Regions from separate parts of the Homo sapiens genome. Here all the other regions are linked to region 3. Evidence: fine-mapped expression QTL. A gene starts in region 3. Each other region holds a variant in brackets. All regions are shown on one strand. Distances are between the middles of the regions. Region 1 overlaps LOC124902686 (a long non-coding RNA gene). Region 2 overlaps LOC102723878 (a long non-coding RNA gene). Region 3 holds the start of TRPT1 (tRNA phosphotransferase 1).

What was found. PIP is the estimated chance that this variant, and not a neighbour inherited with it, causes the effect. A credible set is the group of variants that fine-mapping cannot tell apart.
Region 1: its variant is the best candidate, but not a certain one, in a credible set for the expression of TRPT1 in fibroblasts (GENCORD, PIP 0.65).
Region 2: its variant is the best candidate, but not a certain one, in a credible set for the expression of TRPT1 in lung (TOPMed, PIP 0.80).

Annotation. Positions count from the first base shown.
Region 1 is chr11:64,174,079-64,179,082 of GRCh38, reverse strand. LOC124902686 (a long non-coding RNA gene) reads left to right here. Exons shown (of 2, transcript XR_007062712.1): 2 at 2,088-3,981. Among named protein-coding and RNA genes, the nearest start is that of STIP1, 9.6 kb to the left of the region's middle. The variant CA/A (reference allele first, on the strand shown) is at 2,257.
Region 2 is chr11:64,322,407-64,327,377 of GRCh38, reverse strand. LOC102723878 (a long non-coding RNA gene) reads left to right here. Exons shown (of 4, transcript NR_188518.1): 4 at 2,047-2,328. Among named protein-coding and RNA genes, the nearest start is that of PRDX5, 6.8 kb to the right of the region's middle. RefSeq lists a silencer at 1,886-2,038. The variant A/G (reference allele first, on the strand shown) is at 3,068.
Region 3 is chr11:64,223,289-64,228,292 of GRCh38, reverse strand. TRPT1 (tRNA phosphotransferase 1) reads left to right here and starts at 2,107. Exons shown (of 8, transcript NM_001033678.4): 1 at 2,107-2,243; 2 at 2,424-2,507; 3 at 2,713-2,794; 4 at 3,323-3,492; 5 at 3,576-3,750; 6 at 3,952-4,008; 7 at 4,083-4,193; 8 at 4,326-4,477. The coding sequence starts at 2,433. The coding sequence ends at 4,417. It overlaps NUDT22 (nudix hydrolase 22), which reads right to left and starts at 2,019. Exons shown (of 6, transcript NM_032344.4): 1 at 1,866-2,019; 2 at 1,161-1,658; 3 at 627-725. The coding sequence starts at 1,640. FERMT3 (FERM domain containing kindlin 3) reads right to left here. Exons shown (of 15, transcript NM_031471.6): 15 at 4,402-4,980. The coding sequence ends at 4,801. RefSeq lists enhancers at 841-1,358, 1,359-1,878, 2,479-3,201, 3,384-3,443 and a silencer at 1,904-2,313.

The DNA of each region.
Region 1 (5,004 bases), 49 kb after region 3:
AGAGCCCGGGGCATTGTCAGTGCTTAGTGTTTGTTGAATGAGCCAATGGAACTGGTCACCCTCCGCTGCCCTGGGGGTCCCTCAGCCTTTCCCAGAAGGTCCCTTGGACCTTCCCTCTGGGCTTCCTCACTCCCTTTTCTGCTTATTCTTTTCTGAGCCGAATTGTTGTAGCCCCTCAGATCCAAATGGCCCAACCCCACTGTCTCCTTCCCAGCACCTCTGTTGAGAAATACCAAGTGGTAGAGAGTGTGCCTGTGTGGACGTGGGTGGGATACGTGCCTCTTCTACACCGCCCGTAGGAAGGTACGCTTAGCAATAGCTATTGAAAACACAAAAGTGATTCTGCTCTTAGGAATGTCTCCCGCAGGGACCCTACCCTGGTGGCACAGGACGTCTCACACAGCACTGTCTGGGACAGCAAAAGGGATGGAAACCACCTGAGTCCAACTATGGAGGACACTGGAAAACACGATGCTGCCTCCATAGGATGGGATATTGGCAAGTGTGAAGAAACAACATTTGGGTAGATATTGACATGGCAAGGACATATGGTAGAATGAAAAAAGTTAGTGGTTGTGATATTGTGAATATAAGTATGCATATTTGGGTTTCACTTCCAGTTCCTGGCACAGAGCTCCTGAAACACTTGTAATTTCTTGAGTGATGGTGGGAGAGGAGCATCTTTTGTTACTCATAATGAGCCCCTTTCAACCATAAATTTATGCTAATGAGGTGACTCTTGGCGCATGAGGGTGGTAGCCAGGAGAAGGGGAACCCAGTAAATGATTAGAGGGTTCAAACCCTGGGGAGGGGAGATGGGGTGGACATTGAGTTAATTACCAGTGGTCAAGAATTAATCAATTATACCTGTATAATGAAGCCGCCCTAACACTCCTAAATGAGGCCGGATATAGTGGCTCACGCCTGTAATCCCAGCACTTTAGGAGGCTGAGGCGGATGGATCACCTGAGGTCAGGAGTTCAAGACCAGCCTGGCTAACACGGTGAAACCCCGTCTCTACTAAAAATACAAAAAATTAGCTGGATGTGGTGACACACGCCTGTAGCCCCAGCTGCTCAGGAGGCTGAGGCAGGAGAATCGCTTGACCTGGGCGGGAGGCAGGGGTTGCAGTGAGCCAAGATTGCACCACTGCACTCCAGCCTGGGTGACAGAGCAAAACTCCATCTCAAAAAAAAAAAAAACAACTAAATGACAGGGTTCAGAGAAGAACACATGGAGGTGCTGGGAGGGTGGAGTGATCAGAGAGCACTTGGAGGCTCTGCATCCTGCCTTCCACACCTTGTCCTATGCATCTCTTCCATCTGGCTGTTCCTGAACTTCTATCCTTTATGATAAACCGGCAATAGTAAGTTAGGCTGGGTGCAGTGGCACATGCCTGTACTCCCAGCTACTTGGGAGGCTGAGGCTGGAGGATCGCTTGAGCCCAGGAGTTCAAGGCTGCAGCGAGCACCACTGCACTCCTGCACTCCAGACAGAGACACTCTGTCTCAAAAAAAAAAAAAAAAAAAGTAAACTGTTTTCCTGTGAGCTGTTCTAGCAAATTATTGAACCTGAGGAGGGGGTCATGGGAACCCCCAATTCATATGTCAGAAGTATGGGGGACCCAGGACTTGCTCCTGGAGTTTGAAGTGGGGGTAGTCTTGTGGGACTGGGCCCTTAACGTGTGGGAGCTGATGCCAACTCCAGGTTGATAGTATCAGAATGGATTCAATTGTAGGACACCCAGATGGTGTTGGAGAGTTGGTCGATGTGGGAAAAAAAAACCCACACATTTGGTGTCAGAAGTGTTGTGAGTTAAAAAAAAAAAAAAAAAAAAAAAGCATAGTAGTTGTGGAACAGTGTGTATGGCTGAATCCTATTTTTGTAAAAATAAAATTATGTGTGTATCTCTTCACATATGATTATACATGCAGGGAAAAAATCTACGATACGCAGCCAGTGGCTACAGGAATTACCTCTGTGGACTGGGAACAGGGAGGCGGTGTGCTGTGATAGTTTGCTGGGGCTGTCATAACAGAATGCCACAGATGGGGTGGCTTAAACAACAGAAATGTATTTTCTTACAGTTCTGGAGGCTGCAAGCCCAGGTTCAAGGCATCAGCAGGTGTGGTTTCCTCCGAGGCCTCTCCCCGTGGCTTGCAGATGGCTGCCTTCTTCCTGCATCCTCACGTGGTCCCTCCTCTGCACTCCAGCATCCTTAATGTCTCTTTGTGTGTCCAACTTTCCGCCCCCCCC[CA/A]CCCCTTTTTTTTCTGATGGAGTCCACCCAGACTGGAGTACAGTGGCGTGATCTCAGCTCACTGCAACCTCCACTTCCTGGGCTCAAGTGATTCCCCCGCTTCAGCCTCCCGAGTAGCTGGGATTACAGGCATGTGCCACCATGCCTGGCTAATTTTTGTATTTTTAATAGAGATGGGATTTCACCATATTGGCCAGGCTGGTCTCAAACTCCTGACCTCAAGTGATCCACCCATCTCGGCCTCCCAAAGTGTTGAGATTACAGGTGTGAGCCACTGCGCCCAGCCCCGAACTTTCCTCTTAAAAGGATATCAGTCAGGCCAGGCGCAGTGGCTCATACCTGTAATCCCTGCACTTTGGGAGGTTGAGGCGGGTGGATTACTTGAGGTCAGGAGTTGGAGACCAGCCTGGCCAACATGGTGAAATCCCGTGTCTACTAAAAATACAAAAATTAGCCGGGCGTGGTGGCAGGCGCCTGTAGTCCCAGCCACTCGGGAGGCTGAGGCAGGAGAATTGCTTGAACCTGGGAGGCAGAGGTTGCAGTCAGCTGAGATCATGCTACTGCACTCCAGTCTGGGCAACAGAGCAAGACTCTATCTCAAAAAAAAAAAAGACACCAGTCAGACTGGAGTAGGGCTCACCCTAATGGCCTGATTTTAACTTAATTACCTCTTTTTTTTTCTTTCTTTTTTTGAGACAGAGTCTCGCTCTGTCACCCAGGCTTGAGTGCAGTGGCGCGATCTCAGCTCACTGCAACCTCTGTCTCCCGGGTTCAAGTGATTCTCCAGCCTTAGCCTCCCAAGTAGCTGGAATTACAGGCGTGTACCACCACACCAAGCTAATTTTTGTATTTTTTAGTAGAGACAGGGTTTCTTCATGTTGGTCAGGCTGGTCTCAAACTCCTGACCTCAGGTGATACACCTGCCTCGGCCTCCCAAAGTGATGGGATTATAGGTGTGAGCCACTGCACCCAGCCTTAATTACCCCTTTAAAGGCCCTATATGCAAATACAGTCACATTCTGAGCTACTGGGGGTTAGGGCTTCAACATAGGAATTCAGGCAGACATGATTCAGCCCATAACAAGGGCTTTCACTTTTTTTTTTTTTGTAGAAACAGGGTCTCACTATGTTGCCCAGGCTACTCTTGAACTCCTGGGTTCAAGTGATTCTCCAGCCTCAGCCCCCAGATTAGCTGGGGCTACAGGTGCACCAGCACGCCCAGCTAATATTTTTACTTTCATTTTTTTTAGACGGAGTTTAGCTATCTTTGCCCAGGCTAGAGTGCAATAGCGTGATCTTGGCTCACCACAACCTCTGCCTTCCGGGTTCAAGAATTCTCCTGCCTCAGCCTCCCAAGTAGCTGGGATTACAGGCATGCACCACCATGACCGGCTAATTTTGTATTTTTAGTAGAGACGGGGTTTCTCCATGTTGGTCAGGCTGCTCTCGAACTCCCGACCTCAGATGGTCTGCCCGCCTCAGCTTCCCAAGGTGCTGGGATTACAGGCGTGAGCCACCGCGCCCGGCCAATATTTTTTGTGGAGTCAGGGTCCTACTATGTTTCCCAGGCTGGTCTTGAACTTCCAGGCTCAAGCGATCCTCCTGCCTTGGCCTCCTAAAGTACTGTGATTCCAGGCCTGAGCCACAGCACCCTGCTGGCTTTCACTTTTTACTTTATTTCTATGTTGTTAAAATCTATTACAATAAACATTACTTTTAAAGGATTTTGTGCACTTCAATCCAAATGTCCCTGAAGCATCTACCTCCCTCCTGGGCCTTCTCTGAAGTCAGAGTAGGGGCAGCTGAAGCCCTCCCTCTGCTGGCTCCAGGAACGAAACCCCCTGGCCCACTAAGGCCCTTCCCCTGGGGAGGGTGGCGTGGGATAAGAACACTCAGTATCTGTCTGGCCCTCTCAAGATCACTGAGGACTTTCCCAGACAGCCGACATGGTCTTCAGATCAGTCTGCCAAACGTCACATAGAGGCTGGGCACGGTGGCTCACGTCTGTAATCCCAGCACTTTGGGAGGGCAACGTGGGTGGATCACCTGAAGTCAGGAGTTCGAGACCAGGCTGGCCGACATTGCAAAACCTCGTCTCTACAAAAATATAAAAGTTAGCTGGGCGTGGTGGCACGCGCCTGTAGTCCCAGCTACTCGGGAGGCTGAGGCAGGAGAATCACTTGAACCTGGGAGGCGGAGGTTGCAGTGGACCAGGATCGTACCACTGCACTCCAGCCTGGCCAACAGAGTAAGACTCCATCTCAAAAAAAAAAAAAAAATCAGGTGGAGGGGCATCCTCTGTTTTCCAGGCTCCTGGTTTATAGCTGCAAGCTCTGGACATTTAATACCTTGTAATCCATCCTTCCCTTATATACCTCTCAACATAATGACTGTACAATATGGCCAATGAAACGGATAGTAAAATGAAACATAGGCAAGTAATAAAGTGAGATATGAAGACAGTAGTACAACCTGGATGAGGGTGGAATGCAAAATTGTCATCAGAGAAGACGACAGGAGGACCTGAGAGCTGGAGGGACGGACGCTTATCTACCCAAATGAGGCTATAAAAAGTAGAAAGATGGCAGGGTAAAAATGGGGGAGGGCTGCCACTTAAGACTCTCAGGAAACAGTGATGCATCAGACTTTATCATTAAGTCCCAGGGGAGAGGAGTGGATCTGGGGATCCCTTTAGATATGGTAGAATTCTCCTGGGTCCTGCTCTGGTCTTAAATCTCAGACCAGTA
Region 2 (4,971 bases), 99 kb before region 3:
TTTTTTGTTGTTGTTGTGTTGTTTTGTTTTGAGATGGAGTTTTGCTCTTGTTGCCCAGACAATGGCACAATCTCGGCTCACTGCAATCTCCACCTCCCAGGTTCAAGCGATTCTCCTGCCTCAGCCTCCTGAGTAGCTGGGATTACAAGCATGCACCACCACGCCCTGCTAATTTTGTATTTTTAGTAGAGACGGGGTTTCTCCATGTTGGTCAGGCTGGGCTCGAACTCCGGACCTCAGGTGATCCGCTCACCTCTGCCTCCCAAAGTGCTGGGATTACAGGCGTGAGCTACCACGCCTGGCCTTCACTTCTTTACTCCTTCCCAAAACGTGTTAAGTATTATCTGTGTTTCCCACCCTGAGCAGGGCTCCTTACCTGTGTTAAGTAAAAAGACATGATTCCCAACTCCAGGAGTGCGAGTTGATGATACAAATATAATCACATGGCAGGCCAATATGCATGCTCGTTAACACCAAGAATCTGTGCCTTCGCATAGATGTTACCTGAACTTCTCCAGAAGTTATACCCATGCACACTTTGCACTATCTGCTGTCACTTCTCAATGCCTGTGTCACCAAACCCCAACCACGCCCAGTAGAGTGTGTCCCTTTGGGGCCAGCAGCCTCCACTGCCCCTGATCACAGCACCTTCATGGCTGCAGCCCAAGCCTGATCTAGGCCAGGAACACCAGGACCCCTCCAACCTTTTCTTTGTCTCAGAAACCCAGACTTGACTCCCTTAGGGCCTATTGAAAACTCCCCCGATAGGCCAGGCGCGGTGGCTCACACGTATAATCCCAGCACTTTGTGAGGCTGAGGCGGGCAGATCACGAGGCCAGGAGTTCAAGACCAGCCTGGCCAACATAATGAAACCCCATCTCTACTAAAAAATACAAAAAGTAGCCGGGCATGGTGGCACGCGCCTGTAGTCCCAGTTACTCAGGAGGCTGAGGCACAAGAATCGCTTGAACCCGGGAAGCGGAGGTTGTGGTGAGACTCATTCTGTTGCCCAGGTTGGAGTGCAATGGCGTGATCTCGACTCACTGCAACCTCTGCCTCCCAGGTTCAAGTAATTCTCCTGTCTCAGCCTCCCAAGTAGCTGGGACTACAGGCATGGCACCACCATGCCTGGCTAATTTTGTATTTTTAGTAGAGATGGGGTTTCACCATGTTGGCCAGGCTGGTCTCAAACTCCTGACCTCAGGTGATCCGCCCACCTCAGCCTCCCAAAGTGCTAGGATTACAGGCGTGAGCCACCATGCCTGGCCTGATTTTTATCTTTCAAATAACCTTTTATTGAGCCTTTTTTTTTTTTTTTTTTTTTTGAGGCAGGGTCTTGCTCTATTACCCAGGCTGGAGTGCAGTGGCATAATCATAACTCACTGCAGTCTTGGCCTCCTGGGCTCAAGTGATTTTCCCAACTCAGCCTCTGGAGTAGCTCGAACTATAGGCACGTGCTACCACACCCACCCAATTATTTTATTTTTTTGGTAGAGACGGGGTGTCACTAATTTATTTTTATTTAGTTGTTTTTGTTTTGGGTTTTTTTTTTTTTGAGACAGAGTTTGGCTCTTGTTGCCCAGGCTGGAGTGCAGTGGTGAGATCTTGGCTCACCAAAACCTCCGCCTCCCAGGTTCAAGTGATTCTTCTGCCTCAGCCGCCCGAGTAGCTGGGATTACAGGCATGAGCCACCACACCTGGCTAATTTTGTATTTTTAGTAGAGACGGGGTTTCTCCATGTTGGTTAGGCTGGTCTCGAACTCCCGACCTCAGGTGATCCGCCCACCTCAGCCTCCCAAAGTGCTGGGATTATAGGTGTGAGCCACCACACCCGGCCTATTTTTATTTTTTTAGAGACAAGGTCTCGCTCTGTCACCCAGGCTGGAGGGTAGTGGCACGATTATAGCTCACTAACTGTAGTTAGTCACCAACTCCTGGTGTCAAGCGATCCTCCCGCCTCAGCCTCCTGAGTAGCTACGACCACAGGCATGCACTACGACAACTTATTTATATATTTACTTATTTATTTATTTATTTATTTTGTAGGGACGGTGTCTTGCTATGTTGTCCAAGCTGGTCTCAAACTGGCCTGAATCAATGCTTCCACCTCAGCTGCCAGAGGAACCGGGATTACAGGCCTGAGCCACTGCAGCCAGCCAGTTTGTTATTTTAATGTAAATTCTTAGTAAACAACTCAGGAGCTCTCTTGTCCTTTTAAAATCCATTTCAACTTCTGCTAATCGGAGTGTATATTCAGGGCAACTTGAATCTGTGCTCCTGGGATGCAATCCTCAAGCTTGGCCCAAATAAAGTCTCCGCTGATATTAATTTTGCCTAGGCTTCTTCCTTTTAGGTCAACACTCTTCAGGCTCATGTTGGGGTCTGTTCAGCTGCGTTTCAAAGGGACTCTAGACCCAGGAAGGCCCAGAACCACTGATGCTGAGTAACACCCTTGGCCTTCTGGTCTCAGTTGCTATGGCCTTGGGCATGCTAGGACAGGCAAGTGAGTTTCACTGGGGCATGTGTTGTTGGGTGGATGTTTCAGCTTCTTTTCTTTTTTTTTTTTTTTTTTTTTTTTTTGAGACAGACTCCTGCTCTGTCTCCCAGGCTGGCATGCAGTGGCACGATCTCGGCTCACTGCAACCTCCACCTCCCAGGTTCAAGCAATTCTCCTGCCTCAGCCTCCCTCCCCAGTAGCCGGGATTACAGACATGCGCCACCATGCCCAAGTAATTTTTGTATTTTTAGTAGATATGGGATTTCTCCATGTTGGCCAGGCTAGTCTCAAACTCCTGACCTAAAATGATCCACCCGCCTTGGCCTCCCACGGTGCTGGGATTACAGGTGTAAGCCACCCCGCCTGGCCTGTTATGTTTTTTAACATTGGTCTTTCGGCCACCAAGAGCCCAGGAAGGCCACACGCACAGCTCTGCCAGGTGCAGCCCAGATGTCCAGGGCTCTCTGGTCCAGGACACCGTGGCCTGGTCTGCCCTTATCTCCAGGCCTGAAGCCCCACCTGTCCAACCTGGAGACAGCTATGCAAGGTTCTCTTGCCAGGTGCTGTTTA[A/G]TCTTGGGCCCTCCAGGGCCTGGAGCAGCTTCCAGGGCCAGTCCTCCGTGCCCCCACCCAAGGACGTCCTCACTCCAGCAAGCTCAGCCACATGCTCAGCAGTCAGGGCCACTGAGGCCACAGCCCCACCGCCACCCACACCAGGCTGTCCTAGAGGGCCACCCCAGCCCTGGAAGCCCTCTCAACCCTTCCTAGAGGCCCAGCCAGTGGCAACAGACCTTGGAGGGGACACTTCCTCTAGAGGCCTTGCTTGGCCTCAGCCAGCCCAGATAATAGCCCAGGAGCAGAGGAAACAGGCAGCAGAGTGACAGAGACGGAGCTGGGCTTCCCCGATAGCAGGGAGCTGCCTGGGTAGCGTGGGGTGCACAGCCAGTGGGGTGGGCTATTTGCTACCACCACCCCCTATTTACTAATGGAGACACTCATTAGCTCACAGGTGCCCTGTAGGAAGCTCCACGTCTGTTTTCTCATTTGTATGATGAGAGGATAAAGAGGTGGTATCCGGGAAAGAAAGGGGCTTTGTGTTATGCGTGTCCATGAGGACAACACTGTACCCCCGAGTTTGGCAGGAGAGGAGAGGCAGGCAGTTTACCAGGGCAGCTCGAGGTGCAGTCAGCCTCCTTCCCTGCCCCCACCTGGGACCCCTGAAGGGGTGGCAGGTTGTGGGAGAGAACCACAGTGACAGAGGTTGGTGGGCAGCACGACTCGGGTAGGCTGAGCACCTGCAACCCTGGGCAGGGAGGCTGGCTCCCCTCCTACTGAGTGTCTGTTCTCACAGACGTGACCACAAGCACCCAGCCCCTCCACCTTCAGCAAGCAGCTCCCTGGATGCACCCTCCCTCCCAACACATCTCCACCTCCACCTCCTGGGCATTGCTGTCATCATGGGTCCTGCTCCCTGCTGCCCATCTGGTGCCTCTCCCAGCCTCCCAGCTTGGGGGCTGCACACGGTAGCCCATGGCCAAGGTGCCTGTAGGGTGGAAGGCAAGCTGCTCATCAGCTTCAGAGAGCCCACTGACCTCCAGGCATCCTCTCTTGTCCCCAACATTCCCCCCCTACTCCTGCTACCCACCTTGCTGCGGCAGCATGGGATTGTCCCACCCTCCACCCCTAGGGCTATGGGGCTCACCCCTAGGGCTATGGGCCTCCCTCCGCCTCCCACTTGAGGCGCCACTCCCACTGCCTCAAGGGTCATTTGCTCTATGAGGCCCTGCTTTGACCTTCTCCCTGACCTCTCAAGAGTGTGGCCTGCCTGAGTCAGCAGTGGGGGCTGACCCCTGGGGACCACTACGCAGGAAGTGCCTGGGAGCCAGGTATTGATGTGGTTCATGGCAGGGCAGCTCCACGCGGTGATGGAATGCGGACTCCCTGTAGGTGGCTGAGAGGCAGCAGCAGTCCACACCTCACCAATTCTTGTGAGGGCTGTTACCACACCTGGGGTGGGCAGGCAGGCAGCATCGCGCAGGGCACAGAGGCCCCCTAGACTCCACGCAGTGGGGCCTCACCATCACAGGCGTGGCTTCCCTGCACCAAGGGGCAGAGGCCCAGGAGCAGGGCCTGCCGTGGCAATGGCCCCCATCCCCACACCCTGCTGGTGTCCCCACTTGAGGCCCCTCACACCCAGCCACCACTGGTCAGGCCTCACCAGCATCTTCTCCCCTCCACAGCTCACCTAGACTCTTCCCCCAGGGAGCCCTCCTGGAATGAGCAAGTGCTGTGCCAGAGCCCCTCTCCCTGTCCATCAGATGGTCCTAAAGTGACCTGAGCTCTTCCTGGGATGAGGGTGTGCCCAGGAGGGGGTCAAGTCTGAAAGGATGGTGGGGCTGGGCCCCGGCAGGAATGCTGGGAGCCAAGCTTCCCGCCATGGGGTTTCCAGACTAAATGGCATCAGGCAGCACCCAGAG
Region 3 (5,004 bases):
GAGAATCACTTGAACCCAGGAGGCGAAGGTTGCAGTGAGCCGATATGCCACCACTGCACTAGCCTGGGCAACAGAGCAAGACTCTGTCTCAAAAAGAAAAAAAAAAAAAAGAAGAAGAATCCGGCCTGGTGCAGTGGCTCACACCTGTAATCCCAGCACTTTTGGAGGCTGAGGCAGGCAGATCACGAGGTCAGGAGATCAAGACCATCCTGGCTAACAAGGTGAAACCCCATCTCTACTAAAAATACAAAAAAAATTAGCCAGGCATGGTGGCGGATGCCTGTAGTCCCAGCTACTCAGGAGGCTGAGGTAGGAGAATGGCGTGAACCCGGGAGGTGGAGCTTGCAGTGAGCAGAGATCGTGCCACTGCATTCCAGCCTGGGCAACAGAGCGAGACTCTGTCTAAAAAAAAAAAAAGAAAGAAAAAAGAAAAGAAGAAGAATCCAAGGCAGAGGGTACTGAGGGCTAGAATTCCACTCCAAGTATGTATAGCTGCAAAGCCAACTTCTTCCCTCATTGCTGGCCAGATGCCTGCAGGCCTCCTGCCAGCCCAGACCTGTAGAATTCTGGCAAGTCCTACCCCCTCCCTTCATGTCTACCACCCTGTCCAGGTCAACCTCACTCACCTCATCACAGATCTCCTGAAGGACACTGGAAAAGAGTTCATGTACCACCAGCTGCCCAGCGAGGTCCTGGTGCTGGGGGCTGCCACCAGGGCACAGGGCCTGTGAGAGGTCAGGCTCAGCCCCTGCTCCCCACCTCTTCCCCCTGCCCCATCTCAGGACCAGCAAGCCTATACCTGCTGGCCTTGAGGGTCTGATGTGGCACAGTGTAAGAGAGTTAGTGATCCTGAGTCTGGTGTCCTTTCCCTGACAGACAACCAGAGGTCCAGCTTCAAAGGAGATACACAGGGGGCAGGGGTGGAGTAGGGCATCTTCTTCCTGTGCCCAATCTTTCCTCCCGTGTTTTCTAGTTTCTCACAGGACTGGGGCAGGGGTCAGTGGGGAGGCAGGTGGACTGCCCTGAGCAAACTTCCAGAGAAATACCAGGCCAATTTTCCCTTTAAGGAATGAGGAAACCAAAGCTGGGAGGATTGGGAGGGTGGAGAGCTGCAGCTCCCTTGAGCTGTCTGGGTCTTTGTGCCCAGCCTGGAATCTCACCTGAGGCTCAGGGTGCCCACCAGGTACGTCCACCAGCCCAGGGGCCTCAGCCACCTGCCGGGAGCGGCGCAGGAAGACAAGGAAGTCATCGGCTGTGGCTAGTGCAGCGCCCACCCCCAGTGGGTCCGCCAGATAGGCCTGCGTGTCACCCCAGTCGGTGGCACCCTGCTGTCGCAGCCAGGCAGCTGAGCTGGACCAGTTGGTGCCCAGGAAGTCTCGGTAGGAAGTAAGGCCCAGGCGCAGGAGCAGCTGTGGCCCCCGAGAGCCAATAGGCGCCAGGGTGGCTGAGTGCAGGCGGAACTTGGGGGCGTCGAAGAGCCAGGGTTGGGCCTTTAGCCGGGTCTCCCAGATGGCAGTGATGGCCTCGTCCCCACCTGGCAGTGGGCGACGGTCATGGGCGGGGCTCAGCTCGGCCTGTATCTGCTCCTGGGGCAGGCCCCCGCCAGGGCACTGCAGCAGCAAGGTCACCTCAGGATCCATGGTCTGAACGGGGCAGCTCTGGGGGAGGATACGGCCAGGCCTGTCATCCAGGGGGGCCACTACCACTCCTGGGCTGCGCAGCTAGCCCCCTCTGTCGCAGACCTCCTGAGGGTATCCGCAGCGCTTCTCCACCCCCCTGACCACTCCTTGGGCAGTAAAACGTGCCATCTTCCCCGCAGGAGCCCCGAGTCCCGCAGGGTATCCAGGACGCCCGGGCATCCCTACCATCCAGAGGTCTTGGGTTCAGGCGCCCCAAATGCCCATGTCCCCCAAACCCAGGGGTCTGCCTCCGACCCGGGGCGCGCGGGGACCCCTTTCCAGGGCCCGGAAGCTCCAGCCTCCAGCGGGCGCTCACCAGCCGCCGGGTCCCTCAGGCTCCGCCCCTTCCCCGAAGCGGAAGTGCCCGCCCCCTTTCCACGCGGCTTTTCATTGGCGGGTCCGCCGCGGTCGAGGATCCTGGAGGTTTGTCCCCGCCGCCCCGACGCTTCCGCCCGGTCCGTCGGCACGTCGGCCCTGCCTCCCGGACCACCCTGCGGGGCGCACCAGCGATCTGGGGTGCGGGGCTCGGCCTCCCTGCGCTCCTGGCTGACCGTGTGACCTTGGGCAAGTCTGGCCTGCTGGGCCTTAGTTTCCCTCTCTGCAGCAGGGACTTGGGGGTGGTGAACTTAATGAGCCGTATACTCCCACCCAGCGCTCACTTCCTGAGGCTTTGTGACTTTCTGGGAGGGATGGGGACGTGGAAGGGGCCTTAAAGCAGTCCCCCCTCGTCACTGCCCCCCACAGGTCTTAACCATGAACTTCTCTGGAGGAGGGAGGCAGGAAGCAGCAGGGTCCAGGGGTAGAAGGGCTCCCAGACCCCGAGAACAGGTGCGCGCCTCCTCCCCACCCCCTCCCACCAGTCCAGGCTCCCTGGGAGTTGCTGGGGGGCGGAGCTGAAGGGTCCTACTATTCCTGGAGACCACTGGCACTCCTTTCTCTCTGGGCTCTCTCTGCAGTGGGTCATTGAGGGTTCAGGATGGGCAGTAGGGCAGGGTCACCATGGAGACTAGGGGCCACCGCTGGGTTCTTTCAGGACCGAGACGTGCAGCTGTCCAAGGCTCTGTCCTATGCCCTGCGCCATGGGGCCTTGAAGCTGGGGCTTCCCATGGGAGCTGGTAAGTAGGGGCCTTGGAGGCTGGGGCTTGAGCCCAGAGAGAAACGTGAGCCTGTCTGCGACTCCTCCCTGATGGCTGCCTCCACCGCTCCCTGAGGAAGGCACAGAGTGCACTTCCTCCCCATGCACAGAGGAGAGCAAGGCCTAGAGCCCCTGTCATGTCCACAGCAGACTGAGGAGAGTTCTTGTCTGGGCCAGGCCTGGTGACCGCCCCCTCCAGCCAAGCAGCCAGATCAGCACTTACCCCGAGGGCGAGCCCTGGAGGATACGGTGCAGCTGGTGGTGTGAGTGTGCACTCCGGGCCAGCGCTATGCTGGGCACTCACCTCCCTGCCCCTCCGTGAGGCAGATCCTCTTTTTATGTAAGTTGAAAAAACTGCGGCCCAGAAAGGGGAGACTTTCTAAAGGTCCCACAGAGGATGCCCAAGCGATCTCCAAGCCCAGACTTTGTTTCGGTTGCCTGTGGCTCCCTGTTAACCCTGGCCCAGTCCAGAGCAAGGTTAGCTCCTGAGCACCCTGCCTGCCCACAGATGGCTTCGTGCCCCTGGGCACCCTCCTGCAGTTGCCCCAGTTCCGCGGCTTCTCTGCTGAAGATGTGCAGCGCGTGGTGGACACCAATAGGAAGCAGCGGTTCGCCCTGCAGCTGGGGGATCCCAGCACTGGCCTTCTCATCCGGGCCAACCAGGGCCATTCCCTGCAGGTCGGGGTGAGGGGACAAGTGCGAGACGAGATGGGAGGGACCCCTGCCTGCGAAGGGGGTCTCACTGCTACCCGTTCAACCAGGTACCTAAGTTGGAGCTGATGCCCCTGGAGACACCGCAGGCCCTGCCCCCGATGCTAGTCCATGGTACATTCTGGAAGCACTGGCCATCCATCCTACTCAAAGGCCTGTCCTGCCAGGGAAGGACGCACATTCACCTGGCCCCAGGACTGCCTGGAGACCCCGGTATCATCAGTGGTCAGTGCCCTCCCCTCCACCTAGCTACTCCCACCCACTCTGTCCTCCCAGGTCCCCTTCAAAGGTTACAACACTTGTCTGGGGCCACCCCATGTCCGGCATGGAGCAGCACCCCTGCATCCCCCAGCCCAGGACCCCAGTCTGCCTAGGTTGCTGACTGCACTCCAGGTGCCCAGGCCTCAGCTCCAGCTGTCTCTGCAGGCATGCGGTCCCATTGTGAAATAGCTGTGTTCATCGATGGACCCCTGGCTCTGGCAGGTGAGTCTGGACAAAGCAGGAGCTGCCCTTGCCTTCGGGGAGGGCATGAGTCACATCTCTGGCTCTGTCAGCAGATGGAATACCCTTCTTCCGCTCTGCCAATGGGGTGATTCTGACTCCAGGGAATACTGATGGCTTCCTCCTTCCCAAGTACTTCAAGGAGGCCCTGCAGCTACGCCCTACCCGTGAGAACCACCACCCCAGCCCCTATTCCTTGTTCCTGAAAGCTGTGCCCTTCTGCCCTCACCTCTCTCCTAGCTTCCAACCCTAGACTGACTTAGGTGTCCCTTTCTCTAACCAACTCTTGTCTTTATCAGGAAAGCCCCTTTCCTTGGCTGGTGATGAAGAGACAGAGTGTCAGAGTAGCCCCAAGCACAGCTCCAGAGAAAGGAGGAGGATCCAACAATAAAATATTAATTTATAAAAAAGAAATTTTAAAAAGTAACAAGAAAGAACTCGTTTGAAACCATGTTTCATCATCCTGTAGCTACATCTGGTCTTCCTTGTGTGCTGGGGGACTGCAGATAGGTCAGGGGTATCAGCCTCAGCCACTCAGACAAGGAAAGGGGGCACCACATGAGCTCAGGGACCCCCACCCCCATCCCTGGCCTGGGTGATGGTACAGCGTCTGGCCCTGCCAGGTCCTTGGCCTGCACAAAGTCAGTGACAGCAGGTGAAATGCCCAGCTGGGTGCCTGCCTGGAGCGGGTGTGGGGCAGTGAGCCCCTGTGGGTGTGGGCTTGGGAGTGGCTGTGACAGGGTGGTGAGCAGGGCAGGGGCAATCAGACAGCCCTCAGAAGGCCTCATGGCCCCCGGTGAGCTGCAGGAAGAGGTCTTCATCCAGCTCCTCCCCACGGGCCCGCTCCCGCGTCGACAGGAAAATGTAGCCCCCGATATACTCGTGTACAATTCGGCAGCTGGCAGACACGCAGCTGAAGGCCACATTGATGTGTTCATCAAACTCGATGGCCACCTGAAGGGCAGACAGAGGGGCAAA